Linked DNA regions of Homo sapiens. The protein of the gene in region 1 purifies or fractionates together with the protein of each later gene. This does not show direct contact. Each region holds a gene or a part of one and is shown in the gene's direction. Other genes may lie near its edges.

Region 1 (7,569 bases):
TTCCCAGTGCGTGCTAATTAACTCCTTAATTGTCTCTGCATTTGCTGAGCCGGCAGATGAAGTGGATGCAGACAGATTGGGGCGCGTGTGATTTCATGCACGGGGGAGCGGAGAAGAGCTGCCTGGAAATCCCAGGGGGTCTTGTCCCCCTCTTTACCCTCCCTCTTCACCCATCTCTGAGAGGCTGGAGGGCGCTTCTGCACCTAAAGCAGATGGGGCCATCTGCAAGGGAAGCATCCATGGGGAATTTGCCCCCATCAGCCTTTCAGGGATGATCATAATGCTTGCCACTATTGATGGAACACCCCCTACTGTTTGCTAGACACACATTGTTTCAACAGCATGGGCATTAGCTGGGTTTTATGGTTTCTGGAGAAAAGTGAGACTCAGGCTAGGTTACTTGCCCAGGGCCACACAGCACTGGTGTGACAGAGCTGAGATTTGAACCTAGGTGAGCACAAGGCCAAAGTCCTAAGTGGGCCCTGGCTAGATGCCTCCTGCCAGCAGAAGGAGAAATATCTTCAGGCCTGTTTCCCTCTCAGTCCGTGGTGGGGATAAAGGGTACTGAGGTCTAAGGACTGCAGGGTCCAGAGAAAACGAAGCATGGAGAAGAAGCTGGGAGGATGCTGAAGGAGCCAGTATCCTCTGTCAGGACTTGGACAAGGGGTGGGTGGGCCAGAGAAGCAGAAAGAAGTAATGAGACACTAATCACAGCCCTTGGATCCCTCAAGTGTTATCTTACTAAGGCCCTGCCAACACCAACTTCCTCTTTTCCTCATCCTTGTCCCACAAACCCCTGTCAGAGTGACTGCCCCCCTGCCTCTCTCTGCTGGCAGCCCTGGCTCAGCCTTCTATTTCACTCCTGGCCCTTGCACTAGAGTCACAAGTCAACATGTTTGTCTCTCTTTCCACACTGGGATATTTTGAGGCAAGGACTCTGCCAATCCTCACCATGTCCACAGGGCCAATCTTGGGGCTTGATCCAGGAAAACCCTCGGTGAAGGTTTGCTGCGATGTACAGGGTAGGGATGAGGGGATGTGTGTGTGCAAGGACCCATCACTTCTCAAACGAAGAAGAAACAACAGCATGAGGGATTTAGGTTGTATATAAGAAAGAACTTCCTAAGACTGGGGCCTGTGACACTATGAAACCATAATTCAGACCCATAAGTTCTGAAGAGCAAGGTTGCTCAAGATTGGCTATATGTTAAAGGCCTCAAAAAGTTGGGCGATTGTCCGGGCGCAGTGGCTCATGCCTGTAATCCCAGCACTTTGGGAGGCCAAGGTGGGTGGATCACCTGAGGTCGGGAGTTCAAGCCTACATGGTGAAACCCCCAGCTCTACAAAAGATACAAAAAATTAGCCGGGCGTCGTGGTGTGCGCCTGTAATCCCAGCTACTCGGGAGGCTGAGGCAGAAGAACCTCTTGAACCGGGGAGGCGGAGGTTGCAGTGAGCCGAGATTGTGCCATTGCACTCCAGCCTGGGCGACAGGGTGAGACCCCAACTTAAAAAAAAAAAAAAAAAAAAAGGCCGGGTATGGTGGCTCACGCCTATAATCCCAGCACTTTGGGAGGCTGAGACGGGTGGATCACAAGGTCAGGAGATTGAGACCATCCTGGCTAACACGGTGAAACCCCGTCTCTACTAAAAATACAAAAAACTTTGCCAGGTGTAGTGGCGGGTGCCTGTAGTCCCAGCTACTTGGGAGGCTGAGGCAGGAGAATGGCGTGAACCCAGGAGACTGAGCTTGCAGTGAGCCAAGATCGCGCCACAGCCCCAGAGATTCTGATTTAACTGGTCTAAAGTGGAGCCATGGCATTGCAGTTTTTTTTTTTTTTTTCTGAGACAGAGTCTCGCTCTGTTGCCCAGGCTAGAGTGCAGTGGCACGATCTCCGATCACTGCAACCTCTGTCTCCCGGGTTCAAGCACTTCTGCCTCAGCCTCCTGAGTAGCTGGGATTACAGGTGCGTGCCACCACGCCTGGCTAATTTTTGTATTTTCTGTGGAGGCAGGGTTTCACCATGTTGGCCAGGTTGGTCTCCTGACCTCAGGTGATCCACTCACCTCGGCCTCCCAAAGTGCTGGGATTGCAGGCGTGAGCCACCACGCCTGGCTGGCATTGCAGTTTTATCTTATTATTTTTATTTTTTGAAATGGAGTTTCGCTCTTGTCTCCCCGGCTAGAGTGCAATAGCACAATCTCGGCTCACTGCAACCTCCGCCTCCCAGGTTCAAATGATTCTCCTGCCTCAGCCTCTCGAGTAGCTGGGATTACAGGTGCCCGCCACCACGCCCAGCTACTTTTTGTATTTTTAGTAGAGATGGGTTTCACCATGTTGGCCAGGTTGGTCTCAAACTCCTGACCTCAGGCGATCCACCCTCCTCTGCCTCCCAAAGTGCTGGGATTACAGGAGTGAGCCACCGCGCCCAGCTGGCATTGCAGTTTTAAAAGCTCCCCAGGTGATTCGAATGTGCAGCCTGGGTTAAGAACCAGTGCCTTAGATTCTGCCCTGGTTTGGCTGCACTGGTGGTTTTACCACTAGATCCAAATGCTAATACTAATAATAGTTATTTACTTATTGGGATTTACTAGGTACATGCCAATGTACTAAGCACTTTCCATGCGTTAGCTCATGTAATCCTCGAAAAATCCTGTGAAATAAATATTATCTCTGCCTTACAGATGAGGAAACCGAGGTCCAGAGAGGTCAAGGGGCCTGCCTATGCTAATGAATGGCAGGGCCAGGTCTGGAAGCTGATTCTCCTGATTCATACCTTCTGTCTTCCCCCAGACTCCTCCTGAGGCTGCTCCTTGGCCTCAATCAGTCCTCGCCTGCCTCCACCTCACCTCATCACCTTCCCTCCACCCCCGCTGCTCCCTCAGTAACATCCCAGGTGACTGAAGCAATTGCAGCCATTTGAAGAGGCTCCACGTGTCAGTCAGCCTGCGAGCCGCGGGGAGGTGGGGAAATTACAGATGCTCCAAAATAGTGTTCCCCTCCCCCTGAGGATATTTGGAATTCAGGAATCAGACTCTGCCTGATGCTTCCTCAGGTCTCTGGGACCCTCCCAGGTGATTTCCCACTCTCAAATGCCCCCCACGAGTTGATTCTAAGTATCTGGGAGAGGGCTGCCACCCAGTGGCTGCCCGGGGGCATAGCAACCCTCCAGCACTGCCTGGTACCGCTGAACAGCTCCCCAAGACCTGAATGGAAGATCCTCCCTTCCTTTTGGCAGCTCCGTGTCCAGTCCCCTAGTAAATGGATCTCGACCTCCCTCCTCCACAATCTTAAGTCCACTCTCCCACTAGGGACCTCCAGACCCCTTCTCTGGTTTCCTAGATGTCCACTACTCCCAACTTCTCATCCAACTTCTTTCCAATGTGCCATCCCCTTCTCGTTACAGGTTTTCTTCTAACTTAAAGCCCGGCACCATGTCCTAGGAATACACCTCTCACCATCCTTCTCCCCGAGCCGCACCAGCCTGCAAGTAGAGCGAAGGAGCCACTAGAGACAGAACTCTGGTCCCCCGCACCCTCCTCCTCATCATCTGACACCATCAGACCTCAACAGCCTCTGTGCTAAGAGCCCCTAATGAGCATCAGCAAATTAACAACTTCCCCTTGATTGCTCCTTCTCTGTTAATTGGATAGGGAGGGCCCCCCTCCCCAAGGCCTCTCAGAGAAGAGGAGGGAGGCAGGGAAGGAGAAAGGTGAGAGCCACAGGAGCAGCCCCCAGGCCTGCGTTCTGTGCTGAGACTTCTGCTCCATCCCTGAGCATAGCTCCCCGTTCCAACCCTTCCTCACCCTGTCCCCTTCACTCCCTTTGCCTCCTTCCTTCTGTCCAAATTCCCTTGACCTCTGGCTATTTTTCCTTCCTTTTCTCTGCTCCTTCTTTGGAGATTTGGCAGTAAGGGGTTGCGACCATGCCCCCCACAAGCCCAAAGCTACAAGGATGGGATCTGAGTGGTCAAGGCTGCGTGTTGGCTCACATATGTGCACGTGTATATGTGTCACATGCAGGTGGGAGCAGGGATAAGAGCAGGTGAGTGCTTGCCATGTGGGTCAGGCCCCCGGGATACGTGGACATCTGTTGCGGGGGGGTGTGGTTGTGAATGGTGTGGTGTGACTCTGGTCGGTATGTGTGTCTGTCTCCATATGGGCTAAGTGCTTGAATTAGTCAAGTGTGACTCGGAGCGTGTGTGTGTATGTGTGTGTGTACGCGCGTGTGTGCCACCAGAGGAAGCAGCAGCAAGAGGCAGGAGCATCGATCCGAAGGAGACAGCGCGGGGAGAGGGACGCTAGGGGCAGACACCCTCCCTCCTGCGCGCACACACGCGCGCGCGCACACACACCACACACAGAGTCATACACACAAGCCATAGGGCCTCGCAGGCAGGGAGACGGCTCCGGGACTGGAGAGAGGCAGCGCCGCCGAAAGCGGCCGCGAGGAGGGGCGAGGCGGCGCGGGGAGCCCTGGGTCCCGCTCCCGGATCCGGGGCCCCGCGCGCACACCAGCCCAGAGACAGCCTCGCAGACACTCGTAGGCGCGCACGCGCACCCTCTCCCCTCCCCCTCCCCTCCCGCCGCCTCCCGGCCGGACGATGGATCCCTGCAGATCCCAGGGCTGAGAGCACCGCGCACCGCGCCGAGCCCGGGCAGACCGAGCCGAGGCGAGCGAGCCAGCGAGCCAGCGCGCGCGGGCGGGCGGACAGATCGGAGCCGAGCGGGGCCGGGCGGGGCGCTCCCTGCAGGGCTCTGCGCGGCGTGCCGCGGCGGCCGCGGGCTCCGGCCCCGGGCCATGAGCCCCTCCGCGACTCGGCGCTGAGCCCGCCACCGGTCCAGCGCCCCAGGACCCGCCGCCGGCTGCCGGCTTGCCGAAGCCCCCTCAGGTGGGTTTCCGATACCCCTGCCTTTGGCCGCGAGGCTCCTCGGTACCCCGAAGCCGGGACTCTCCTCCCTCTGGATTTCCCTTGCTGCTGGGGCGGCTCGGTGGCTGGGGAGGGGGGCGGGGGCCGAGCTGGGGATCTGACTGCGACGAGAAGCTGGACTGGGGGGGGCTGCGTCCGGGGCGGGGACAGCTCGCTGTCATAGGGAACCGCGCCCCCCCTCCATACATCCACCTCGGGCAGCCCGCCACCCCCCACTCCCAACATACACACAGCCTGCGCTTATGTGAGAACTGGAGACACCCGCAGGTGAGGACTCAGGCTGGGCCCCTCCCTAGATGTAGCCACCTCCCTGGGGGTTTTCTGGCCCCAGTTTAGCCCTTAGGACCACAGCCCCGTCCAGGGAATACCCGTGACCAGGACAGGAGCTCCTTACCCCGGGGTCAGCCCATCTGGGTGAGTTTTCATCTCCAGGATGGGGTGGATATTCTTGTCCCAGAGTGACCCCACATCTGGAGGGAACTCCTGCGCCTGCCTATGGGTGCATCAGGACTTCCCCCTCAACCTCGGATGACTATATCTGGGGTCTCCCCGGGCCTGGGAAGCTTCTCTGGGGAGCATTCTCTTGGCCTGACCTGACCCCCTGTGCCTCTGTATTTGGAGGAACCCTGGATGTGTCCCTTGGTCAGCCACCTCTGGGCTTGCAAAGCAGGGAAGTCTTCTGCCCGAGGAGTGGTGACCTCTGGAGATGAGGATTCTGGATGGGCACATGTGGAGGGGCTCCATGTGTACTTTCATCCCAGGACAATGATAGACTGTCCCTCCCTCCTCCCCCAGGATCCCCTCAACAAGGATGGAACTGAAGGCCGAGGAGGAGGAGGTGGGTGGCGTCCAGCCGGTGAGCATCCAGGCCTTCGCCAGCAGCTCCACACTGCACGGCCTGGCCCACATCTTCTCCTACGAGCGGCTGTCTCTGAAGCGGGCACTGTGGGCCCTGTGCTTCCTGGGCTCCCTGGCTGTGCTGCTGTGTGTGTGCACGGAGCGTGTGCAGTACTACTTCCACTACCACCATGTCACCAAGCTCGACGAGGTGGCTGCCTCTCAGCTTACCTTCCCTGCTGTCACGCTGTGCAACCTCAACGAGTTCCGCTTTAGCCAAGTCTCCAAGAATGACCTGTATCATGCTGGGGAGCTGCTGGCCCTGCTCAACAACAGGTGGGTGGCTCCCACCCTCCCTCAGCCCTGCTCCTGGAGTTGCTTGAGTTCCAGTCAGGATGTCTGCCTCCCTGACCCACCATAGAGCCCAGCCAACCCTGCCCTTTAACCCACCCCCACCCCCAAACCTGCCACTCACAGCAGAGGAGTTAGGGTGCTGCTGAGCACCCAGTTAAGGGCACCCAGCCTCCGATCCCAGCATAGTCCAGAACAGCTCGACCCCCACCCAGCCTGAGGTATGAGACATTGTCACCCTCTCTGGAGTGAGCTTTACCTTCATTCTGGCCACTCTGTCTTGACCTTCTCGTCAGTTGGGGGATGGGGACAGAACATCTTTAAAGGGTAGAAACTACAGTATAAAAGCCACAGCCCCTGCCTTGTCTCTCTGCCCACCTTATCCATGCTTCCTCTCACCCATGTGCTGGGATGGGATGCCCTGCCCCTGGGCAGCCACTACAGTTCCTCCTGTCATTTCAGACCCATGTGGTAGAGCCTCTGCATGCCCAGCTCTCCTTCCTTGCCTACACCTGGGACTGATCCCCAGGGCTGGAGGCTGCCCCCATCACCCAAGTTGGGTGCAGGACACTGATGACTGTACTGACCCGTGTGTCACTCACCCCCGGACCCCAGGTATGAGATACCAGACACACAGATGGCAGATGAAAAGCAGCTGGAGATACTGCAGGACAAAGCCAACTTCCGCAGCTTCAAACCCAAACCCTTCAACATGCGTGAGTTCTACGACCGAGCTGGGCACGACATTCGAGACATGCTGCTCTCCTGCCACTTCCGGGGGGAGGTCTGCAGCGCTGAAGACTTCAAGGTGGTGAGTCCCCTCGTGTGGGGTGTGAGTCAGCCTGGCCCACAGAGGAGGAGGAGGAGACAAGGAGCAGGCTGGGCCTCTCCGGGTGCTTGCTACTCTGGGAGAGGAAGTTGTATGTCCTGGGGTTTGCTTCTAGTAGAAGGGGAGTTTGTTCAGCATAGGGGCACATTTGCACTCACTGCATGAGCACCTGAGCCTCAGCCTTGCAGCCATGATGGCAGGAAAGAGAGCCTACAGTGCACAACACACACATATATGCACACACGTGCGTGGTCTGGCATAGCCACAAACCCACCAAGCTTACCTTCTAGGCCACAGGTGTCAGAGCTGAGCAGACAGGTGGGTAAGCTACAGCCGTGTTACTTGTAGTGAGGTCCAGGACCATCAACTGGGAGCTTGAAAGGAATGCAGGACTTTGCCACCCCACTTCCCAAACCTACTGAACCAGAATCTCCATCTAATAAGATCCTCAGGTGACTGGAGTATACACTAAAGTTTGAGAAGCACCGTGAAGCACAAGTAAGGGAAACCTTCTCTTAAATAGCCAGACAGTAACTCCCTGTGTGCCATCCGCACCCCATACATAGACACATACACTGTTTGGTTAGGTTTCCTGCTTGCCGGCAAGAGCCGCAGAGCCAGGA
Region 2 (7,470 bases), on another chromosome or scaffold:
CTTAATAATAAATACATTTTTGAAAAGTCTTTTTACTTACTCTTTATATTTAGTGTTTAATGCACTACAAGTTGACTATTACTGTTTATCTATATAGCATCAAATAGTAAATATAGATCTTATGCTGGAAATGTCAACCTCCCTGGCAGCTGTAACGCCCATCATTGAAAGGGAAAGCGGAGGACACCATTATGTTAATATGACTTTACCTGTCGATGCAGTTATATCTGTTGCTCCAGAAGAAACATGGGGAAAGTAAGTATTTTTATAGTACCACTGCCACATTTGAATGAGGGCCCTTCCCCAAACCCATGTTTGTATATCCTGTAGGTATACCTAAGGTGTGATTTTCTCCTTGTTTATTATTAACCTAAGAGCCATCTATTAATTAAATGGTTATTTGGAGGAAGTAGGGTAGCATGCTAAAACCTGGAGGATTTCCCTTTATCCACAAAGAGCAAATACACAGTTTCTTTTATAATGTATAATTCAGACTTCCTTTAGCAAACCTGGTCCAATCAAGTTTTTTACTATACTAAGGATATATTAGCTCTGTACTTTTCTTTATTGTAGTCACTATAACTTTTGTTAATACACTTATATATTTCCCCCCACAGAGTTCGTAAACTCCTGGTTGATGCAATTCATAATCAACTAACTGACATGGAAAAATGTATTTTGAAATATATGAAAGGAACATCTATTGTGGTCCCTGAACCACTGCACTTTTTATTACCAGGGAAAAAAAATCTTGTAACAATTTCATATCCTTCAGGAATACCAGATGGCCAGCTGCAGGCCTATAGGAAGGTAAAACCAGTTCATCTATTCTTAGAAAAAACAATAATGACTATCATTCATTTTGTATTTAATTATATATTTCCACTAAATGGAAGGTATTTTGTGATTTAACTTAAAAGTGTGGAATTTAGACTATTCATTTTACACATTATTTAATTTCTGTTCTCATGAAACTTTAAGTAGTATTAATGACAAAATGTTATGTTGAACCTATATGTAACATTTTAATTTTAAATGCTCGGTGTGGTTCATATATTCTGTGAAATTTTAATATTTTTCCATAATGAAATATAGAAATGGTGCTTACATGCCTAAAGTTGCTGGTATTAACAGATTTCTATAACTTTCCGATTTGTGAAAGAGACAAGATTACAGTTAGGGAAGGAAAATGATAACTTATGCTAATTCTGAATAGGATTTATGGTAATACTCCACAAGTAAGGTTATTTGGGCTTTATTAGAGGAATTTTGGAGAAAACATGACCAGCATTCAAAGTAATGAGATTTACTCATGACTGGTTTTGGAGTGCATCTTTTTGATATGTGGACTCGCTTAGAACCTATCAAATTAGACCGTGGAGCATCTTCCTAATTTCTGTCCTTAGGGAGAGCGAGAATACCCTGACCCTCTGTATGTGGAGGTGACTTGGTTTGTAGAAGCAATAGCTACAGGAGCTGATCTTTTAAAACCACTGGAGTACAAGATATGATAAAGAACATGTCAAACTTTTTAAAATACCTATTACATGTTTTTATATAGTTGGGAAAATAACACATTTTAAACATATATGTGTATTTGTTTTCCTGCCATATTGGTTGGCTTTAGACCACTAACTTCTACTCTGTAGTTTAATCACTACCACTTACAATATAAAATATTTGTAAGGCACTCGACACAATTTTGCAAAATACTTTGATATAATTATTGTTAATTATAATTTACTCATTTACAAGGCTATTTCAAAACCAGTCTTTAGCCTGGATGTATTTTAACAGACTATGTTGTAATAAATAATTATTTAAAAATTAGTTCTCTTACTCTAACAATTTATATTCATTTTTCTCTGTTCCCTTCCAGTTTCTACCCAGATACAGACGTAAACGAAAATAAATCTTACTTGGTTTTAGTTCAGTTTTCACCATCTTTGATGTTAGTGAATTAAACCATAAGTGTTTGGAAACTTTTATAACCTATATATAATTTTCCATGTTTAATAACATCTTTATTTATTGACTAGGAATCTAAATCACCAACATTTTTTCTTTTTCTGTTGATTCTGATTTATTTTAGGAGTTACATGATCTTTTCAATCTGCCTCACGACAGACCCTATTTCAAAAGGTCTAATGCTTATCACTTTCCAGATGAGCCATACAAAGATGGTTACATTAGAAATCCACATACTTACCTTAATCCACCTAACATGGAGACTGGTATGGTGAGTTTAACTAATTATTTATGGGAGTCACTGGATCAGTAATGTTATTAGTTGTTTTTTGTTGGTACCCAGTAGGAGACTTGATTCATTATGTATTCATTCCTAAAACATGATTTATCACCCATCTCTGTTAACAGACATTGCTTAAGATAGCAGTAATTAAAAATGGTCTAGAAAAGTTAGTAATAGGTAGATATACCACATTTATCTTACTAAAATTCTCTTATTTCTTTAAAGGCTTGTCCCATTTTTTTTCATTCTGAACCTGAGAAATCATGCTAATTAAGGGCATAGTCTACCCAAACCACACTGTAGGATAAATCTTTTTTTGTTTTTTTGAGACAGAGTCTCGCTCTGTCACTCAGGCTGTAGTGCAATGGTGTGATCTCAGCTCACTGCAACCTCCGCCTCCTGGGTTCAAGCAATTCTCCTGCCTCAGTCTCCTGAGCAGCTGGGGTTACAGGCACCTGCCACCACACCTGGCTAATTTTTGTATTTTTAGTAGAGACAGGGTTTCACCATGTTGGCCAGTAGCTAGGGTTACAGGCACCTGCCACCACACCTGGCTAGTTTTTGTATTTTTAGTAGAGACAGGATTTCACCATGTTGGCCAGGCTGGTCGTGAACTCCTGACCTCAAGTGATCCGCCATGTAGGCCTCCCAAAGTGCTGGGATTACAGGCATGATTCACCATGCCCAGCCACTGTAGGATAAGTCTAATGAGGAACTAGACTTATTTTCCATGTAACATATACCCGGTTGCCAGGGATAGATCCTCCCTAAAGGTAGCTCAAATAAGAGTGAATTGGCGGAGGGTGGTGGAAGGGTTACTTTAAGGATACATGGAGGCCAGTGAGAAAGGACCTTATAAGGCATCCAAGATTAGGAATACCAATAGAGCTGGGCCTCTTAGAAACAGCAGCCCTGTGACTAGCAGGTGTCTTCAGTCTCTCTCAAGGACTCCGTGGATACCTTGGTGGCATTGCTATTGCTTTCTGTGTATGCTTGTGATCCTAACTGGCCTGTTCTTAACTTTTACTCTGTCTGCTCCACCTCATACCCTCTGTATCCTCACTGTTTCAGCTTGTGTGTCACTTTTTCCTGTTCTTCCTCAGCTGCCCAGTGTATGCCTCATTCCAACTGCATTTCCTGCTCCTGGCTGCCTGGCTAACTCTGCACCTCTCAGTTCAGATTCCCAAGAGAAAGAAAACTTGGCTATCGTATGGTGGCATTTATTAATACCTTCTGAGCGTCCAGGACTTTTGAGGAAATCTTAAGAATTAAAAAAATGCATATACGATACAGTACGTACCCTAGATGAGTTAGGGGCCCACTTGTGGTCTTGGTCATTAGAGTGTACTCAGGGCAGCAGATCATCTGCAAAAGCTGTGGGCCAACCAGCTTCCATAGAAAGTTCCTCACAAAAAGAATAGTTCCTTAGAAGAACCTGGACACACAGAAGGTATTGAATGAGTACTGATTGCTTTTTGACAATAAAATAGGTTCATTATATCTGTATTACAAGGTCGTAAGAAAAATATATACTTTACATATTTATCATGTAATATTTGATATGTACATATAACATATGCAAATTGTAAAGCACAGTGGGGAAATGAATACCAGGGAGCTCCTCCCTAATTTAAGAAGCAAAACTTTACCAGTCTGTGCTCTTTCCCTACCCACTCCTCTGCCTCCTCGACACAGTTCCAGGAGGAACTATTATGGGTTTTGTGTTCATCATTTCCTTCCTTTTTAAAAAGTAGTTTCAGCGTATATGTTACATATCAATCTCAGCAATGTCGCTTTTAGTATTGCATAGTTCTGAGTTTTATAAATATGGTATCATTCTGTACGTAGTCTCTGCAGCTTGCTTTTTCACTCAATATTACATATCAAACATCTCTGGTATTTTGTCTAACCATAGTTAATTATCTTTATGATTTTTTCCAAGTTTTTTTGCTGTTTAGACAATGAACATTCCTATACCTCTCGATACATATGTGCAACAGTTGTTAACATTTTGCTATATCTGCTTCATTTCTCCCTCTTTTTTCCCCCTCTGAACCATTTCAAGGAAAATTATAGATATATTATTTACCCTTAAATACTTTGGCACAAATCTCTCAACAATATAGATGTGCATTCATGAAATAAACTCGGTTTGGTTATGACTCATTATTTTTTATTCCCCTCTGGATTCCATTTGCTAATATTTTACGATTTTTGCATCTATGTTCGTGAATGATACTGGCTTATAATTTTCTTCTCTCATACTGTTCTTATTTTGTTTTTTTATTAGTGATATACTGGTTTACTAAATTAGTTAGGTTAATGTTCCTTTTTTAGTTTTTTAGAGAAGTTTATATAAGAGTGGTATGATCTTTCCTTGGTCATTTGGTAAAACTTGCCTGTAAAACAATTTTGGCGTAGCATTTTCTTTGTGAGAAGATTTTTAGTAACCAATTTAGTTTTGGTAACAGCTTTAGGACTTTTTGATTTTTATAAGTTATTTACCTAGGTTTTAATATATCTTGTAGTCATAATATTTTCTTTTTCATTCTTCATATCATTTTTATGCCTTGTGTCTTTTAAAAAAAAAAAAACTTTTGGCTTTGTTGGCCCCCTCTATTATAACTTCTGTATTTGATTTTATTAATTTTTGCTCTTTACTTTCTTTTTTTTTGCTCTTTCTTTGATTTATTGTCTTTCTTCTAACTTCTTAAGTTGGACATGTTAGCTTATTGCTAATATTTCTTTCTTTCTTTTTTTTTTTTTTTGAGATGGAGTCTTGCTCTGTTGCCCAGGCTGGAGTGCAGTGGCACAATCTTGGCTCACTGCAACCTCCGCCTCCTGGGTTCCAGCGATTATCCTCCCTCAGCCTCCCAAGTAGCTGGGATTACAGGAGGGTGCTACCACGCCTAGCTCATTTTTGTATTTTTTAGTAGAGATGGGGTTTCACCGTATTGGCCAGGCTGGTCTCAAACTCCTGACCTCGTGATCTGCCTGCCTCAGCCTCCCAAAGTGCTGGGATTACAGGCGTGAGCCACTGCGCCCGGCCTAATCTTTCTTTTTTTTGAGATGGAGTCTTGCTCGGTTGCCCAGGCTAGAGTGCAGTGGCATGATCTCAGCTCACTGCAACCTCTGCCTCCCTGGTTCAGGCAATTCTCCTGCCTCAGCCTCCCCAGTAGCTAGGATTACTGGCAATAGCCATACGCCTGGCTAATTTTTGTATTTTTAGTAGAGACAGGGTTTCATCATGCTGGCCAGGCTGGTCTCGAACTCCTGACTTTAGGTGATCTACCCACTCGGCCTCCCAAAGTGCTGGGATTACAGGCATGAGCCACCGTGCCTGGACAGCTTTCTTATTTTCTAATGTAAGCTTTTAAATTTCAAGCAAAGCACTGCTTTTAGTGTATCTTATAGGTTTAATTTGAAGGATTTTAGTTTTGTTCACTTCTAAGTATTTTTATATTTTTCTATTATGGTTTTTCTTTTGTCCATGTATTATTTAGAAGTGTTTGTTAATGTCCAAATATGTCAGAATTTATTTTTCTTTTTTGCTTTTTTTTTCTTCTTGTTTTAACTGGTTTCTGACTCTTGCCTCCTGGTCAGAAAGAATTCTAAGTGAAACTAACTCTGAAATTTATTGAAACTTGTATTTGTTCCCTAAAAAATAATAACATATTTGATGGCTTAAAACTACAAAAATGTATTGTCTCAGTTCTGGAGTTCTGAAAGTAGTATCACTGGGCTGACATCACAATGTCAGCAGGACCACCTTCCCTCCATAGGCTCTTGGGGAGAATCCATTCCTTAATCTGATGGCTGCCAGCATCCTTTGGTTTGTGGCCCCATCATTCCGATCTCTGCCTCCTCAGTCACATTACCTTCTCCTCCTATGCCCCTCTCTTTTAAGAATATATGTGATTGCATTTAGGGCACACTAGGATCCAGGATAACCTCCCCATCTTAAGATCCTTAATCACGTCTATGAATACCTTTGCTTTCCTTTTTTCTTTTACTTTTTGGCACAGAGGGTGCATTCACAAGTTCCAGGGATTAGGACATACATACCTTTTGGGAGCCACTTTTCAGCCTGTCACAATGGTCAAGTTATAAATTTTTCTATCTGTGCTTGGGCAGAATATATATTCTCTAATTGTTGGGTGAGGGTTGGTTCTATCTTGTCCCTATCTCCTCTCACTTAATTTTTTAAAAATATCATCAGTTTGGAGCCAGGCATGGTGGTGTGCAACTGTAATCCCAGCTACTCAGGAGGCTGAGGCAGGAGGATCACTTGAGCCTAGAAGTTCAAGACCAACCTGAGCAACATAGTGTGACCCAATCTCAAAAAAATAAAAACAAAAACCCAGTTCTTTAATAAAAAAAGACATATACATTCTTAGCACTATAAGTAAGAATTTATATGATATTAGTAATTTATTTATCTTTATTTTTTGACCCTTAACTTAGCGTCATCAAATAACATACTTGGGCTGTAATCATAGCAGGTTTATAAATTTAGACACATTCTTCCTGTGTCCCATGATATGGACCCTTCATTTGTTTGTTCATTCCTTTATTCCTTCCTTCATTCATTCAGCATTTATTCAGCAGCATTTATATTAACCGTGTGCCAGGCGTGTTGTAGAAGCTTGGGCCCAAAAATGGATAAGACACAGTGTATGTACTCACTGAGCTCACATATTAGTGTAAGTAGGCAGATATTTTTTAAATGATAAGTAATGTATCATTTAAAGTATATCAAGTCATGATATACTTTGAAAAATAAAAACATAAAGAGGACAGAGATGACAGGTGAGGCAGGGGGTGGGGTAGTGAGAGAATGAGTGGGCCGTTTGTAGACTGGATGGTCAAGGAAGACCTTTGACATCTAAATGGAAACCTGAGTGAAGTAAGAGTGCAAGCTGTACAATTAATTTGGGAAAAGAGAGTTCCAGGCCAAGAGAACCATGAGGCTCCAAGGTCATATTGCCCCTGGTATATGGGAACCGAAAGTAGAGGGAGCAATAGGGAAAAGTTTAGGAGATGAAATTGGAGAGGAGGCCAGAAGGTAGGTCCTGCTGGGCCCTGTGGTAAGGACTTTGAACCTCAAATAAAAAGCCAAGAAGGTATAATGTTAAACCATAGATCTGTGAAGGCATTTTTATAAGGAACTAAAGTAACAGTCTAACTCTAAGAACATTAAACATAATTCGGGAGCATAT
Region 3 (7,470 bases), on another chromosome or scaffold:
GTGAGGGCTCTTCAAGTTCATTGATCTGCTTCTGCAGAATCTAACCTGCTGTTAATCTCATCTACTGTATATCAGATATATATTTTTTGAACTTTAGAAGTTCTCTTTTGGCATTTTTAATATCTTCCATCTATTTCCTGGTCATCTTTGTGTTTTTCTTTTTTGAGACAGGGTCTTACTCTGTCACCCAGGCTGGAGTGCAGTGGCACAGTCAGAGTTCACTGCAGCCTCAACCTCTTGGGCTCAAGTGATCCTCCCACCTCGGCCTCCCAAGTAGCTGGGACCACAGGCACTTGCAACCACACCTGGCTAATTTTTGTATTTTTAGTAGAGACGGGGTTTCACCATGTTGCCCAGGCTGGTCTCAAACTCCTGCGCTCAAGGAATCCTCCCACCTTGTCCTCCCAAAGTATTGGGATTACAGGCCTGAGCCACCGTGCGCAACCTATGATTTTGGTGGTGGTGTTTTTTGTTTTTCTGTTTTTTAAATATTCTTGAGTATATTTGTAAGCTTTAGATGACCTGTTTTAAGTTATTTAATCTATCAACACCATTATATCTGTTATTACGGCCACTGTTTCTGTTGATTACATTTTTTTTCCTGCCCATAGGGACTTTTTTTTTCATGCATAGTAATTTCTTATTGCTTGACATTGTGAATTTTGCTTTCTTGGGTACCGAACATCACTGTGTTCTTTCAAAGTCTATTGGGCATTATTCTGGTCACAGAAAACTGAGGATCAGTTTGCTCCTCTGATACTAGCTTTTATCTACATATAACTATATACCTTGTGTTCAGTTGCCTTATTCAGGGGCTCATTTAGTTAACTACTAAAGTTATAGTGGTTGACTTCTGATGGTAACTCGCCAGCACCCTGGCATGCGTTCTGTCCACTGTGGGAAGGGGAACATGCAGATCTCCCAGCCCTGAGTGGTCCACAATCTAGTCTCTCCTTCCCTGGGTGGCTTCTTCTCAGGCACCTAGAGTCAGTCTCAGCAGACACTGGACATGTCTTCTGCAAGGATCCAGAGTCCTCCAGGCAGCTGCTTCTCCCAGTCTCTGCCCTGCACTTGGCCTCTGGGAGTTCCTGCCTGTGGTTCTCAACAGAGACTACAGAGCTCTACAGGGTCCTCTGCCCCTGCTGTAGCTGGAGGCTGTCCTTACGCAGTGAGCTGAGGCCACAGCTAGTCTCACTGCATGTGCTTGGCGGCGGGGACAGGAGTGATTCATTCATCAGGTAGAGGAGGAACCCTTTACTCTGGGAAAATCTGTGCCTGGGTTGGGGAAGGACAAATGAGCCCTGTGTGAATACTGACTACTCCCTGGAGCCCACAGTCTGGTGGAGCAGGTGACAGCAGGGACCTAAATAACTATCAGGAAGCATGAGGTCCCACCACTGTCACCTCCCCCACCTCCAGAGTGGCTGTGCTGGCTCCAGAGATGTCATCCCTCCATATTTGACTGACAGAGGGAGGCTGTGCAGTCCCAAGGCTCCAGGTCATGGTAGTTTGGCCAGGATAATATGGTTTGCTTAAAATCAACATTGAGGGTAATGATCGTACTAATCAGAGCATGTGTTTAAAGTTCTGTGTTTTAAGCACTTTCCATACATATTAACACTTTCAGTTCACACAACAACCTATGCAGGAACTGTGATTATCCTGGGCAGTTTTAAGGATGTGGGTGACTCAGAGAGGAAAGAAGAGGTTACTCGGGTTAATTTTTGACGAGAAATATTAGCAGGTTTTATGCTCAAACTTGGTGTAAAGCAAGGAGCCTGAATCACAGGTGGGTGAGTCACAAGACAGGGAAACCCCGCCAATGGCTCATGTCCGGGAGGAGGCAGGGTCCCTAGAATTCAATGGGACAAGAACTGAAATAAGCCAAACCCCTGACCTCCCTTCTTCTTGTTTTCCTTCTCTCTCTTAACCATGCCCATGGACACCCCCATGAGCCCATTTCTGTGGCCCAACACAGCTGTGCATCTCTGGCCACACGCCCATTCTCCCTCAATCAGAGAGGCCCACGGACGGCACAGCCTCGTCCTGCACAGCAGAAAGAGTGAATGGTGATGAATGGATCTATATTATTTCAACTCTCCTACATTTTGTAATCATATTACAATATTAATTCAGCAGTACCTCTCTTGTTTTTACTCCCCTCCCCCATTACACTGGATTCCTGTCTGTCTGGGATTCTGTCTGTGTGCACTCTTTCCTCTATGTCCACTACTGTCCCTGCCACCGATGGCATTTGTCACCTCTGCCTGGGCAGCCCCTCCAGACTCTTTGCAAGTTCATGGACTTTGGGGTTAATGATGGCTGTGCCTCAGCTCCTGTGAATGGAAACTGTGCTAAGGAAAGGAAGGGCCGTGCCATGTTCCCGATACTCCACGGCTCCTTGCATATGCGGTCGCCAGGCGCCTACATGCCTTCCATGAATGAATGAATGAGTAACGTGGATTCTAGGAAGCTGCACTAACCCAGACGTTGTGTCCTCAGCCTGCTCATAGAGTGTGTTAAACGTGAGAGGTGGGGAGTGTGGCAGGCAGGCTGAGGACAGAACAGAGGATCTGAATAGAGTACGGAGGATCACCCAAGTCCAGAGTCACCAAGGCCATTGTCAAGTTTTCCCCGGGGACATCCCTCATCAGATCCACCCATTAAAGATCATTGTTCACCCAGTGGAGAGTGGACTAGGTGGGTGCACTCAGGTGTGGCCTGGACAGCATTCGGGATGGGTCCTAGTGGTTAGGGTGAGGGTCAGGTTGCATTATCGTGAAGGAGGCAAGTGGCAGCTGAGGCAGATCTGAGGGAAATGATGATAACGCAGGCCGGTGATGCAATGGGTTTGGTAAGAAGAGGAAAGAGGTTTGTGGTGGATTCTAGTGTTTCTAATCTGAGACTTGGGTGAGGTCATTACCAAATAAGAAAGAGTAAATGGGCATAAATGGCTTTAAGAATTAGGAACCTGAATGTGCTATTGGAGACAGTATGGGCACGTCATTGCTCATAGACCTGCAGTACACAAAATGCTAAAAGATTTCAATCTGAATAGAGATGAAATGAAATGGAAACATGGATTTTTTTTTTTTTTTTTGAGACAGTTTCACTGTTGCTGCCCAGGCTGGAGTGCAATGGCGCAATCTCGGCTCACTGCAACCTCTGCCTCCTGGGTTCAAGCGATTCTCCTGCCTCAGCCTCCTGAACAGCTGGGATTACAGGCGCTTGCCACCACACCCAGCTAATTTTTGTATTTTTAGTAGAGACCGGGTTTCACCATGTTGGCCAGGCCAGTCTCAAACTACTGACCTCAGGAGATCCACCGCCTTGGCCTCCCAAAGTGCTGGGATTACAGGCATGAGCCACCTTGCCTGGCTGGGAACATGGATCTTAAGGAAAGAAGGAAGATCATCAGGAATAGAAATATGAATGCACATATAAAGAATGATTATTTCCTCTTAATTTCTTGAAAATATTCACTATCAAGTAATATAACACTTTGTAGGGTTTGTAACATATGAACATGCCTGAGACAACTATAGCAGAAAGAATGAGTAGTGGAGATGAATCAATCTGTATTATTTCAAGTCTCCTACATTTTATAATATTACCATATTAATTCTGCCATACAACTCAGTAATGAAAAGGAATGGAGTACTGATGCATATGAAAATATGACCGAATTTCAAAATAATTATGCTGAGTTAAAGAAACCAGACAGAAAAGCATATATAGTATCTGATTCCATCTATGATATTTATAGCCAGAAATGGTTTAATTAAAAAAGAAGAAGGATCTTAAATCAACGAGCTAAGTTTACAAATGTAGGAATTAGAAAAAGAATGAACCAAACCTAGAGTTAGCATTATAAAGGAAATAATTATTAGAAGAGAAATAAATAAAACAGAGAATAGAAAAACAGTAGAGGCCGGATGTGATGGCTCACGCCTATAATCCCAGCACTTTGCGAGGCCAAGACAGGAGGATTGCTTGAAGCCAGGAGTTTGAGACCAGCCTGGATATGGCAAAACCCTGTCTCTACAAAAAATATAAAAAGCAGCCTGGCCCGGGGGAGCACACCTGTGATCCCAGTTACTCGGGAGGCTGAGGTGGGAGGATCACTTGAGCCCCGGAGATGTAGGTTGCAGTGAGCCAAGATCACATCACTGCACTCCAGCCTGGGCAACAGAGTGAGACTCTGTCTCAAAGAAAGAAAGAAAAAGAAAAAAGAAAAACCATAGAGAAAATCCACAAAACCAACATTGATTCTTCAATACTATTAATTAAACTGACAGAATTCACTAGTGAATTCTAACAAGCTTTTAATGAAGAGCTAATACCACTACTTCTCAAACTCTTTCAAAAACTTGAAGAGAAGGGAACCTTTCTTGACTCTTTCTGTAAGGCCAGCATTGCTCTGATACCCAAGCAGATAAAGATATTACAAGAAAATAAAGCTATATCCCAGTATCCCTAACTGATGCAAAAATCTTCAACAAAATACTATCAGAGAGAATTCAACAGTACCTTAGATGGATTATACACCATGACCAAGTTGGATTTATTTCCGGAATGCAAGAATGTTTGAACAAATGAAAACTGAACAATGTAATACATTGCATTAATAGAATGAAGGGGGAAAAAGACACATGATCATCTGAGTTGATACAGGGAAAGCCTCTGATAAAATTCAAAGCCCTTTCATGATGAAAACACCCAGCAAACTAAGAATAGAAGAAAACTTCCACAACATCATAAAAGCCATGTAAGAAAACCCCACAGCTAACATCATACTCAGTGTTGAAAGACGGAAAGCTTTTCCTTTAAGATTAAGAACAACATAAGGATATCTACCCACCTTTGCCACTCAGCATAGTACTGGAAGTTCTAGCCAAAACAGGCAAGAAAAAGAAATAAGAGCATCTGGACTGTAAAGGAAAAAGTAAAATAATCTGTGTTTTCAGATGATATGATCTTACTGGTAAAAAATCCAAAAGATTTCACAAAAAATTAAACTGCCAAAAATAAAATAATATTAAATTTTTAAAATTTTGAAATTTATTGTTGTTCAGTAAAAGACAGTACAGATTGCAATCTGGGAGATTTCAAACCAAGTGGTAAGAAACTTGCCTTACAGCAGGTATAGTACAGGCTATAAAGGAGGATGTATTTTGACAATTTCATGATTGACTTATAAATTTATATTCTTTTTAAAGGCAATCAGAGCTGTTTAAGCTGATTTTTCTATAGCTGCTTGATTTAACTTCACTGAACCATATTATGTCATGATGAAGGTGTAAAACTTATATTTTGTGGGATTTTTTATGATTATAGCTAATGTTTCAGGGATATCAGGATGTCTTAAGTTTTGGCTACATGGTTATGGGTAATTGCCGTGGGGTATATCTAAACTGTGTTTTTAATTTTTATTTAGTAGTACTAAAATGAATTCATCAAAGAAGCGGAATACAAAATCAACTGGAAAAGTCAATTGCATTTCTATACACTACCAATGAACAATTCAAAAAAAGAAATTAGGAAAAAATCCATTTACAATAGTATCAAAAATAATAAAATAGGAGTAAACTCACCAAGGAGGTGGAAGACTAGTACAATGAAAACTATAAAACATTACTGAAAGTAATTAAAGAATACAAAAATAAATGGAAAGATATGCCATGATTATGAATTATAAGACTAATTATGTCAACATTTCCTAAAGTGATCTATACATTCAATGTAATCTCTATCAAAATCCCAAGGACATTTTTGCAGAAATGAAAAAATGTATCCTAAAATTCATATGGAATTTCTAGGGACCAGAATATCCAAAACAATCTTGAAAATGAATAAAAATGTAGTAGGATTCACACTTCCTGATTTTCAAAACTTCCTACAAAGCTGCAGTAATCAAAACAGGATGGTACTGACATAAAAGCAGATAAATCGATCAGTGGAATAGAATAGAGGAGCCAGAAATAAACACTCACATATATGGCCAAATTATTTTTCACAAGGATGCCAAGACTGTTGAATGGAGGAAAGGGCCGTCTTTTCAATGAAGGGGGCTAGGAGAACCGGATATCCACATTCAAAAGAATGAAGTGAACCTTAGCCTAACATTGTATTTAAAAAATAGCTAAAAACAAATAAAAGATGTAAATGTAAGTGCTAAAGCTATAGAACTCTTGAAAGAAAATATAGGATAAAAATTCTGTGACATTGGATTTGGCAATAATTTCTTGGATGTGACACCATGGACATAGGCAACAAAAGAAAAAATAAACATTTTGGACTTCTTGAAAATCAGTAACTCTTGTGAATCAAAAGATACTATTAACTGGATAAAAAGGCAAAACCCACAGAATGAGAGAAAATATTTTAAGTTATATATCTGATAAGGGCTTAATATCTAAAATATATAAAGAATTCCTACGATCTAACAAAACAAAAACAACCCAGTTAAAAATGGGCAACTGATTTTTATAAACATTTCTCCAAAGCAAATATACAAATGGTCAATAAGTATATGAAAAGATACTTTAATCACTAATCATTAGGGAACTGCTGGTCAAAACGACAGAGATACCATCCTATACCCATCAGGATGACTATTATAAAAAACACACACAGGCCGGGTGCGGTGGCTCATGCCTGTAATCCCCACACTTTGGGAGGCCAAGGCAGGCGGATCACGAGGTCAGGAGATTGAGACCATCCTGGCTAACATGGTGAGACCCCGTCTCCACTAAAAAAAAAATACAAAAAAATTAGCCCGGCGTGGTGGCAGGCGCCTGTAGTCCCAGCTACTTGGGAGGATGAGGCAGGAGAATGGCGTGAACCCAGGAGGCGGAGCTTGCAGTGAGCTGAGATGGCACCACTGCACTCCAGCCTGGGCGACAGAACGAGACTCTGTCTCAAAAAACAAAAACAACACACACACACAATAAGCATTAGCAAATTTGTAGAGAAGTTGGAACCCTCGTGCCCTGTTAATGGGAATGTAAAATGGTGCAGCCACTATGGAAAACAGTATGATAGTTCCTCAAAAGTAAAAACAGGATTAGCAGATGATCCATCATTCCCACTTCTAGGTATACGTCCAAAAGAATTGAAAGCATGGTTTCAAACAGATATTTGTACACCCACGTTTATAGCAGTATTATTCACAATAGCCAAAAAGTGGAAGAAACTCAAGTTGGACAGATCAATAGATAATGTGGTATATTCATACAATGGAGTATTACTCAGCCTTGAAAAGGAAGGAAATACTGGCACATGCTACACAATGGATGAACATTAAAGACATGCTCAGTAAAATGCCATTCATAAAAGGACAAATGAAATAGGATTCCACTTGAGGTACCTAATGTAGTCAAATTCATAAAAACCAACAGTAGAATGTTGGATGCCAGCGGTTGTAAGGAGGGAAGAATGGGAAGATGAAATAACTTCTGAGGATGGATA
Region 4 (8,392 bases), on another chromosome or scaffold:
TGGGCCCACCATGAGCCAGGCTCTGGGCTGGGGCTCAGGTGGCTCAGGGACTGATAGGAGTGGGGTAGGGGATTCTTCCTGGCTCCTCATCAAAGACTGTCCTTATTCCCTCCAGTGGCTGTTGGGGGATGAGAGAGGTCCCCAGATTCCATCCTGGAATCATACCTTCCCCCTGAACAGCCTCTGCCCTTCCCTCACAGAGCACCCAGAGGCCCTGTCCTGCCTACTGCTTCAACTCCGAAGAGAAAAGTGAGTTCCACTTCTGGGGCTCTTTAGCCCTCAATTTTAACATCCCAAGAGCTGCTGTGGTCTAAAGGGCTTCTGTCCTCCTCCTTATTGCCATATTTTTTCCTGTCGTTAACATCTGCTTATTCTGCCCTTCCCCCAACGTGACTTACAAATGAGCAGCTCCCCTGGGATCTGGGCTTCCTCTCGACTTTACCCCCCTGCCCACCAGGAGCTGCCCTCGGAGGTGGGGAGGTGGGGACCGGACATCCCTGTTTCCTGCTGCCACAGCAGTTCTAATCCCTGGTGGCTCCTGCTCCCCGCCGCGCCCCCCCCACCGCCCCATGCTCCTGCTGGCCACCGCACAGCTAATCCAAGAGGAGGGAGGGTCAGGGTAGAGGGGTCACGCACCATCCTCTCCCTCACCCTGTGCAGAGCAGAGCCAGCTGGACCTACTGTGCCTTGACAGGGTGGGGCAGAGAGGGAGAGGGTGGCAGCCCCCTCTTCCCGCAAAGCCCTTTAGCAACATCCCCCGATAAATGGGGCAGCAGCTGTGTATCTTATCCTTCCTACCTTTCTGCCTTCCTTCCACCCTTTCTGCTCTCTTGCCTGAGAGACTATAAATGGTACAGAGTGTCCTAGAGGAAGTGGGAAGCTTGGAGGCTGTATGGGGCTGTGACTTCACAACCCTCTCCTGCCCCCTTCCTCCAGCTGGAAGCCAGGTTGGCCCACAGCTTTAGCAGGGTAGGGGTAGGGGAGCATCTGCATGCCACATGCTTGTGCTTCTGCCTCCCAGGCCCACTCCCTGACTGTTCTAGGGGAGGAGGAGGAGAACTGAGGGTCCTCCTTCCCAACACACACACGCACACGCCTTCTCCTACCACAGCAAGTGAAGAATCTCACTTCTTCTCTCCTGGCTTCCACAGAGGATGAAACCAGGCATTCCTTGGCCTAAGGAGAAGAGGGAGAGGGATGTGAGAGTAGTGGGTGGGTGGGGAGGCCAGGGCTTGGGAAATAAGTGGGAGAGACCCAGCATGCCCTGCGGCCACTGTGCAAGCAGCACCCAGTGCCCCCTTCCTCCCCCAGGCCCAGCGAGGAGATGGTGAAGATGGTGCTGAGCCGGCCCTGCCATCCTGACGACCAGTTCACCACCAGCATCCTGCGGCACTGGTGCATGAAACATGACGAGCTGCTGGCCGAGCACATCAAGTCCCTGCTCATCAAGAACAACAGCCTGCCTCGCAAGAGACAGAGGTGGGACACGGTCCCTGTCTACCCTCCAGGCCATGGCGGTCTGCAGTGATTGCTGTCGGTGGTGGTGGTGGTGGTGGTGGTGGTGGTGATGGGGGTCAGTGCTGTCCCAGCCTGGTTTGTGGGCGACATCTAGTGGTCCGAAGCCACATGGCATGCGAGACCACCGTGGCCCTTTCTCCCCATCTTCCAGTGCCCCTGTGGCCAGGATCCCCTGTTCTAGGCACACCTTTCTCACCCAACCCCAGCCCTCCCAGGCTGCCTATCCTGTTCCCCATGTAGGCTGCCTCTGTCTTAAGGGGGCCCTGGCGGGTGGAGGGTGTCTCGCACTCTGGAACCCTCCCACACTCAGACTCTGGCTCTGGTGATTCCTGCACAGCCTGAGGAGCTCTAGCAGCAAGCTGGCCCAGCTGACTCTGGAGCAGATCCTGGAGCACTTGGACAATCTGCGGCTCAACCTGACCAACACCAAGCAGAACTGTATGCCTTCCACCCTCGGCGTCCAGTGTAGACGGTGCTGCCCTGGCCCAGACTATGCCTGGAGCCAGGCTGGGGGCAGGGGCAGGACACCCGGGGCCACAACCCACACTCGGGATAAAACAACCTGTGCGTGCTGTTTAATAAGCTCCCAGACATCTGATTGTTTTTCCTTCCCTGCTCTCCCTTTTCTTCCTCTAGTTTTTAGCCAGACGCCAATTCTCCAGGCGCTGCAGCATGTCCAAGCGAGCTGTGACGAAGCCCACAAGATGAAGTGAGGCTCCTGCCACTTTGGGCCTTGGAAAGTAGTAGGGGAAAAGCCTAAGGGAGAGGAAGCCTGCTAGGGACATAAACGTAATGGCCAGCAAGACCTTAGGGTCCAGGGTTGAAGAAAAAGAAGGCCTAGGCCTGGGGGCAGAGAAGAGGATGGGAGGTGCCGTAGGAGCAGCAGGCTCCCACTCAAAGAGCTACCGCTCCTTTTCCTTAGATTCAGTGATCTCTTCTCCCTGGCGGAGGAATATGAGGACTCTTCCACCAAGCCACCCAAGAGCCGGCGAAAAGCAGCTCTGTCCAGCCCTCGAAGTCGAAAGAATGCCACACAGCCCCCCAATGCCGAAGAAGAGTCGGGCTCCAGCAGTGCTTCAGTGAGAACCCAGCCAGTGCACAGGGGGAAAAGGAGCACTGGGTGCAGGTGGAGTCGGCGCCAGCAGCTGCCCAGGCTGTTAACTTCCCATTTCCCCTCCCATCTCTTCCAGGAAGAGGAAGACACGAAACCGAAGCCTACCAAGCGGAAACGAAAAGGGTCCTCTGCAGTGGGCTCTGACAGTGACTGAGGCCCTGCATTCCCCATCCCACCCCCGGCTGGACTGCCCTCTCCTTCTTGGTGATTCAAAGGTTAATAGAGGCTGAGGAGATTGCAGGGGAAACACCCTTGCTGCATCCCCAAGCTCCCCCGGTGGAAGGAGGAGCTTTCTCCTCTGGCTGAGTTTGAGAAGCTGCCATGCAGCCCCTAGCCCCTTCCCTCCTCCTGGGGCCTCCAGCCCCTCACACTGCTGTTCCCAGTGATATTTGGGATCTGACTGAAGCCAGAGGCTCTGTAAAATCAGACCATAGTGGAAGTCCTCAGCCCCCTGGCCCCTTCCGCAATCTCCTCCCCCAGTCTCCCAAAGAGCCATTTCAACAGAGAAGGGAAATGACAAAGGGGCAGCTGGCCAGATAAGCTAGGATGAGAGCAGAGACTCAGTGTGTGGGTGTCCCTTCCTGCTTCCCCTTCAGGTCTTGGTTTGTTCTGAAGGGACGTTTTATAGTCACTATCCACATGCCAGTGTGAAATGGGCATCTATGACGTGGTCAGGGTGTCCATTCCTAATCATGGGGCAGATGCCACAAGCATTCAGAAAGGAGTCTGAAAGGGTGGCCACAGCCCCACGTGGTGTGCCCTGGAGGCTTAGGTTGGTCTGAGGTTGGCACCTCAATCTACACCAGAGCCCAGGGAGTCCCAGAGGCAAGTTTCACAGAATTGTCAAATGATCCCATTTCCTTGAGTCTGTTTTTTTTTTTGTTTTTTTTTGTTTTTTTTTTGGCAGAGATAATCGTGTCTTAAAAGTTGTTTTTAAATGACAATAAAACAAGCCAGAATGTCTTTTGTGCTGGAGTGTCTGCTGGCATTTGCCCCGTGCATGTATAGCTTGGTCTTGATTTGATTGGCACCCCTACTTGTAACCGCAGAACATCCCCCTTTCCCTTCCTGTTCTGCCCCCACTTTTGTCTAGAGCAGAAGGGACTTGGCTTTGGCCACTACCCATCCTTCCTGCTGCCACTGGAGGTGGGAGCCAGGCACTGATCTGTCTATGCAGAACCATCCCCCGTAGGATGAGGCCTGTCCTTACTCATTTCTCAAGAAACAAGATGCTTCCAAAAGGTCTGTCATCCTCCAGTTGAAGTCTGTGTGCCTACCAAGAATGGCCGGAGGACTCGCTGCTTGACGGGAGGGATGCTCCAGCTTGGTCTCCAGGGACAACTGTACCTGGAGATAAAGTCTGGATACCAGGGAGGGACAGAGATGCTCTTCCTTCCACAGTGTGGCCACTTGCTGGGCCATGTGAACCAGCAGAGGAGAGTTCCTTGGCTATGCTGTTGTTCCCCCGCTGTCCAGGGAGAATGGAGGTGGACTGAGGAGTGAAGTTTGGGCGAACTGCACAGAGCTGCTCCTCTTCACCCCGAAAATTTGTCTTTTTACAGAATCCAGGTTCTCCCCTCCCTCATCACTGCTGTTGCTTCCTTTGAAAGTCTAAACCACTGGAGGCTTCTTTTTCCTTCCTCTCTCCTTCCCCAGTTTCCTCTGTCCCAATTAAAACCAGGATGGAGAGCATTTGCTGGCTGGCCCCAATTATTGTACCCTTGCCCAAAGGGAGGGGCCTCTGTCGTGACCCCTCAGAAATCTGGCAGTCTGGGTTTCCACCTTTCCCCTATTTAACTCTCAGCCCCCACCCATCCCCTGGGGTTGCGGCTGGCAGGCCGGGACTTGCAGAACCAAATGGGCCAGGGGCCAAGTTCATTCTTTTGGGAGAGAGCAATGGTACCTTCCCTTAACGGGAAAACGAGAAATATTGAGGGGAAGATGGACTGCGATCCAAACGCCCTGGCTCTCAGGCCTGGACTCTAGGGCTTAGCCAGATGCCTAAACCGCCCAAGCCGAGAAACAACTTAGAAGACAGACATAACCCTGGGATTCAGGGAAGGCGCGAGCACCGCCCAGGACCTGGTAGGGTGCGAGCCGCGAGCAGTCCGGGAGGGAGCGCGCCTAGGGCGGAGCGTAGGCTGTGGGGGGAGGGCTGGGAGTCCGGGGCCGCCCCACACCCGCACTCCTCCCGGGTTTCTGCTCTCCGCCCGTGTGGAGTGGTGGGGGCCTGGGTGGGAATGGGCGTGTGCCAGCGCACGCGCGCTCCCTGGAAGGAGAAGTCTCAGCTAGAACGAGCGGCCCTAGGTTTTCGGAAGGGAGGATCAGGGATGTTTGCGAGCGGCTGGAACCAGACGGTGCCGATAGAGGAAGCGGGCTCCATGGCTGCCCTCCTGCTGCTGCCCCTGCTGCTGTTGCTACCGCTGCTGCTGCTGAAGCTACACCTCTGGCCGCAGTTGCGCTGGCTTCCGGCGGACTTGGCCTTTGCGGTGCGAGCTCTGTGCTGCAAAAGGGCTCTTCGAGCTCGCGCCCTGGCCGCGGCTGCCGCCGACCCGGAAGGTCCCGAGGGGGGCTGCAGCCTGGCCTGGCGCCTCGCGGAACTGGCCCAGCAGCGCGCCGCGCACACCTTTCTCATTCACGGCTCGCGGCGCTTTAGCTACTCAGAGGCGGAGCGCGAGAGTAACAGGGCTGCACGCGCCTTCCTACGTGCGCTAGGCTGGGACTGGGGACCCGACGGCGGCGACAGCGGCGAGGGGAGCGCTGGAGAAGGCGAGCGGGCAGCGCCGGGAGCCGGAGATGCAGCGGCCGGAAGCGGCGCGGAGTTTGCCGGAGGGGACGGTGCCGCCAGAGGTGGAGGAGCCGCCGCCCCTCTGTCACCTGGAGCAACTGTGGCGCTGCTCCTCCCCGCTGGCCCAGAGTTTCTGTGGCTCTGGTTCGGGCTGGCCAAGGCCGGCCTGCGCACTGCCTTTGTGCCCACCGCCCTGCGCCGGGGCCCCCTGCTGCACTGCCTCCGCAGCTGCGGCGCGCGCGCGCTGGTGCTGGCGCCAGGTAAGGCTGGAGCTCCGAACTGACTAAGGCGGGGCCAGCCACAGAAGGGGGCGTGTCGGAGACCACAGAAAGGCTTGGTCTCATCCCTGGGCCTGGGAAGAAGCCGACTATCCCTTGGGGTTCGAAAGTGGGTGGAGATAGGAGTCTCCGGGTTTGAGAAGGGATGAGGCTGAATCTTTGGTGCCCCAAGGATCCCCAAGGAGTCGAGTTCCAGGCCTCAGACCCAAGATGGAATGTCCATACCCTTCACCCTCATCCAAGAGCAGTGTGGGCTGGGATAGGGAGGGGACATGGGTCATAGGCTCTTCTAGGTAGAGCCAGGGCCCCGGCGTTGTGCTTTCCCACCCTTCTAGAGTTTCTGGAGTCCCTGGAGCCGGACCTGCCCGCCCTGAGAGCCATGGGGCTCCACCTGTGGGCTGCAGGCCCAGGAACCCACCCTGCTGGAATTAGCGATTTGCTGGCTGAAGTGTCCGCTGAAGTGGATGGGCCAGTGCCAGGATACCTCTCTTCCCCCCAGAGCATAACAGACACGTGCCTGTACATCTTCACCTCTGGCACCACGGGTGAGGGCCGGGCACCATACTTAGCTCCCCGAAACCAAGGCAGAGGAAGGCAGGGGTCTGCTCCCAGACCACTCCTTCAAAGCCCCCAGAGAGGATGCTGATTTCATTGGCACATCCTTTTTCTCCCCATCATTTCACTCCCCAGTCTCCTCACCTCCTACTCATTTCTCCACCTCCCCCAGACCACCCATATTTCCAGGACAGCCTGGTCTCGGTCCTCAGCTTCTGTCCTGCCTCCGCCTCTTTCTGTGGGAAACCCAGCGGGGGTGCAAACAGATAGGTAGAGCTTGGAGTTTGCCCTTCCCCTGATCGTCCCATAACTGCCACCCCACAGGCCTCCCCAAGGCTGCTCGGATCAGTCATCTGAAGATCCTGCAATGCCAGGGCTTCTATCAGCTGTGTGGTGTCCACCAGGAAGATGTGATCTACCTCGCCCTCCCACTCTACCACATGTCCGGTTCCCTGCTGGGCATCGTGGGCTGCATGGGCATTGGTCAGTCTCCCCAACCCCACCTTCATTAATTCATCCAGTAGACATTTATTAAGCACGTACTATGGTGTGAGTCCTCCAGGGTAGATAATCTAGAGGACGGATGGGGCAGAGCCCTACTCACCAGGAGCTCTGTACAATAGGGCAATGTCACCTGCCTAGACCTACAGACTGAGGAACGGTGAGGGGGGCCATACAGCCACATAACTCCAGGCTGCAGGGTCAAAGGCAGGGAAGGACTGTGTCAGTCCAGGAACAGGCAAGTAAGAGAAGAGGGAGAGAGAGACAAGGAAGTGAGAGTGTGGAGGATGAGATCTTTGGGGCTGGGAAGTAGGGAAAGGGCATTCACCTCTTCTAAGGCTGGGGACAGGGGCCGGGGGAGGGGAAAGAGGGCCAGCACGGCTTCCTGACGGTGTGACTCCCACAGTGGGCCCTTCCCAGGGAAAGACTACAGTGATGGCTGGGGTCTGGAAAGAGGGGCTTGGGCTCCCCACTCTGCTCCTAATCTTACCTCCCTTCTTCCCCCCTGCCCACTTCTGGCAGGGGCCACAGTGGTGCTGAAATCCAAGTTCTCGGCTGGTCAGTTCTGGGAAGATTGCCAGCAGCACAGGGTGACGGTGTTCCAGTACATTGGGGAGCTGTGCCGATACCTTGTCAACCAGCCCCCGGTGCGTGGGCACAGATCCTGGGCAGAGCTGCTGACACAGGGCTAGCTCACGGGGAGCAGGACAGTTGACAGGAGACAGGGAGTTGGAGGGAGAAGCAGCAAGAAGAAAATGGCAGTGTAAGATAAGGAGCCAGAGATGGCCTAGGCCATCTGATGCTTACGGCCTCTGAAGGAGGTCACAGTAGGAGGGGGTTCTGGGGAATGGGGAACAGGAATTCACTTCCGGGAGCGGGCATCTTGATGCTGAAGCTCCGGCCCCTCTCCCACTCATCTCAGAGCAAGGCAGAACGTGGCCATAAGGTCCGGCTGGCAGTGGGCAGCGGGCTGCGCCCAGATACCTGGGAGCGTTTTGTGCGGCGCTTCGGGCCCCTGCAGGTGCTGGAGACATATGGACTGACAGAGGGCAACGTGGCCACCATCAACTACACAGGACAGCGGGGCGCTGTGGGGCGTGCTTCCTGGCTTTACAAGGTGAGGGGCAGAGAGGAAACTGAAAACCCGTGGAACAGCAGAGGGCTGGCAGGAGAGGGGGCTCATGTGACTGCAATGATCCAGTACCCAGGTCTCCCTTTCCCCAGCATATCTTCCCCTTCTCCTTGATTCGCTATGATGTCACCACAGGAGAGCCAATTCGGGACCCCCAGGGGCACTGTATGGCCACATCTCCAGGTTGGTGGTGTTCTGGTGGGGTGGGCGGGGTGCTGAAGCTGGCACAGGAGGACTGGAATTGGAGACTGGGGTGGATGGGGGCAGAAGGCTCTGGGAAAGGTGACACCACTCCTGACCCTGGTGACTCTGCCAGGTGAGCCAGGGCTGCTGGTGGCCCCGGTAAGCCAGCAGTCCCCATTCCTGGGCTATGCTGGCGGGCCAGAGCTGGCCCAGGGGAAGTTGCTAAAGGATGTCTTCCGGCCTGGGGATGTTTTCTTCAACACTGGGGACCTGCTGGTCTGCGATGACCAAGGTTTTCTCCGCTTCCATGATCGTACTGGAGA

What was found.
Region 2: the proteins of ASIC1 (region 1) and UFSP2 purify together in Homo sapiens (affinity purification with mass spectrometry; 2 studies listed by BioGRID and IntAct, with this or other methods). This does not show direct contact.
Region 3: the proteins of ASIC1 (region 1) and TNFRSF10B purify together in Homo sapiens (affinity purification with mass spectrometry; 2 studies listed by BioGRID and IntAct, with this or other methods). This does not show direct contact.
Region 4: the proteins of ASIC1 (region 1) and SLC27A3 purify together in Homo sapiens (affinity purification with mass spectrometry; 2 studies listed by BioGRID and IntAct, with this or other methods). This does not show direct contact.

The regions. Positions count from the first base shown.
Region 1 is NC_000012.12:50,053,027-50,060,595, forward strand, and holds the start of ASIC1 (acid-sensing ion channel 1), read left to right. Parts: upstream 1-4,569; 5' UTR 4,570-4,890; intron 4,891-5,143; exon of another isoform or gene 5,144-5,196; intron 5,197-5,724; 5' UTR 5,725-5,740; coding exon 5,741-6,102; intron 6,103-6,732; coding exon 6,733-6,928; intron 6,929-7,569. UniProt on the Homo sapiens protein: Forms voltage-independent, pH-gated trimeric sodium channels that act as postsynaptic excitatory receptors in the nervous system, playing a crucial role in regulating synaptic plasticity, learning, and memory.
Region 2 is NC_000004.12:185,408,495-185,415,964, reverse strand, and holds part of UFSP2 (ufm1-specific protease 2), read left to right. Parts: intron 1-97; coding exon 98-255; intron 256-617; coding exon 618-810; intron 811-2,092; coding exon 2,093-2,239; intron 2,240-3,551; exon of another isoform or gene 3,552-7,470. UniProt on the Homo sapiens protein: Thiol-dependent isopeptidase that specifically cleaves UFM1, a ubiquitin-like modifier protein, from conjugated proteins, such as CD274/PD-L1, CYB5R3, DDRGK1, MRE11, RPL26/uL24, TRIP4 and RPL26/uL24.
Region 3 is NC_000008.11:23,058,977-23,066,446, reverse strand, and holds part of TNFRSF10B (tumor necrosis factor receptor superfamily member 10B isoform 1 precursor), read left to right. Parts: intron 1-7,470. UniProt on the Homo sapiens protein: Receptor for the cytotoxic ligand TNFSF10/TRAIL. The adapter molecule FADD recruits caspase-8 to the activated receptor.
Region 4 is NC_000001.11:153,770,485-153,778,876, forward strand, and holds the start of SLC27A3 (long-chain fatty acid transport protein 3), read left to right. Parts: upstream 1-4,922; 5' UTR 4,923-5,013; coding exon 5,014-5,680; intron 5,681-6,033; coding exon 6,034-6,243; intron 6,244-6,577; coding exon 6,578-6,736; intron 6,737-7,276; coding exon 7,277-7,401; intron 7,402-7,676; coding exon 7,677-7,871; intron 7,872-7,978; coding exon 7,979-8,069; intron 8,070-8,202; coding exon 8,203-8,392. Other genes in the region: INTS3 (integrator complex subunit 3), read left to right, coding at 201-249, 1,312-1,479, 1,856-1,956, 2,155-2,227, 2,441-2,597, 2,709-2,786. UniProt on the Homo sapiens protein: Mainly functions as an acyl-CoA ligase catalyzing the ATP-dependent formation of fatty acyl-CoA using LCFA and very-long-chain fatty acids (VLCFA) as substrates.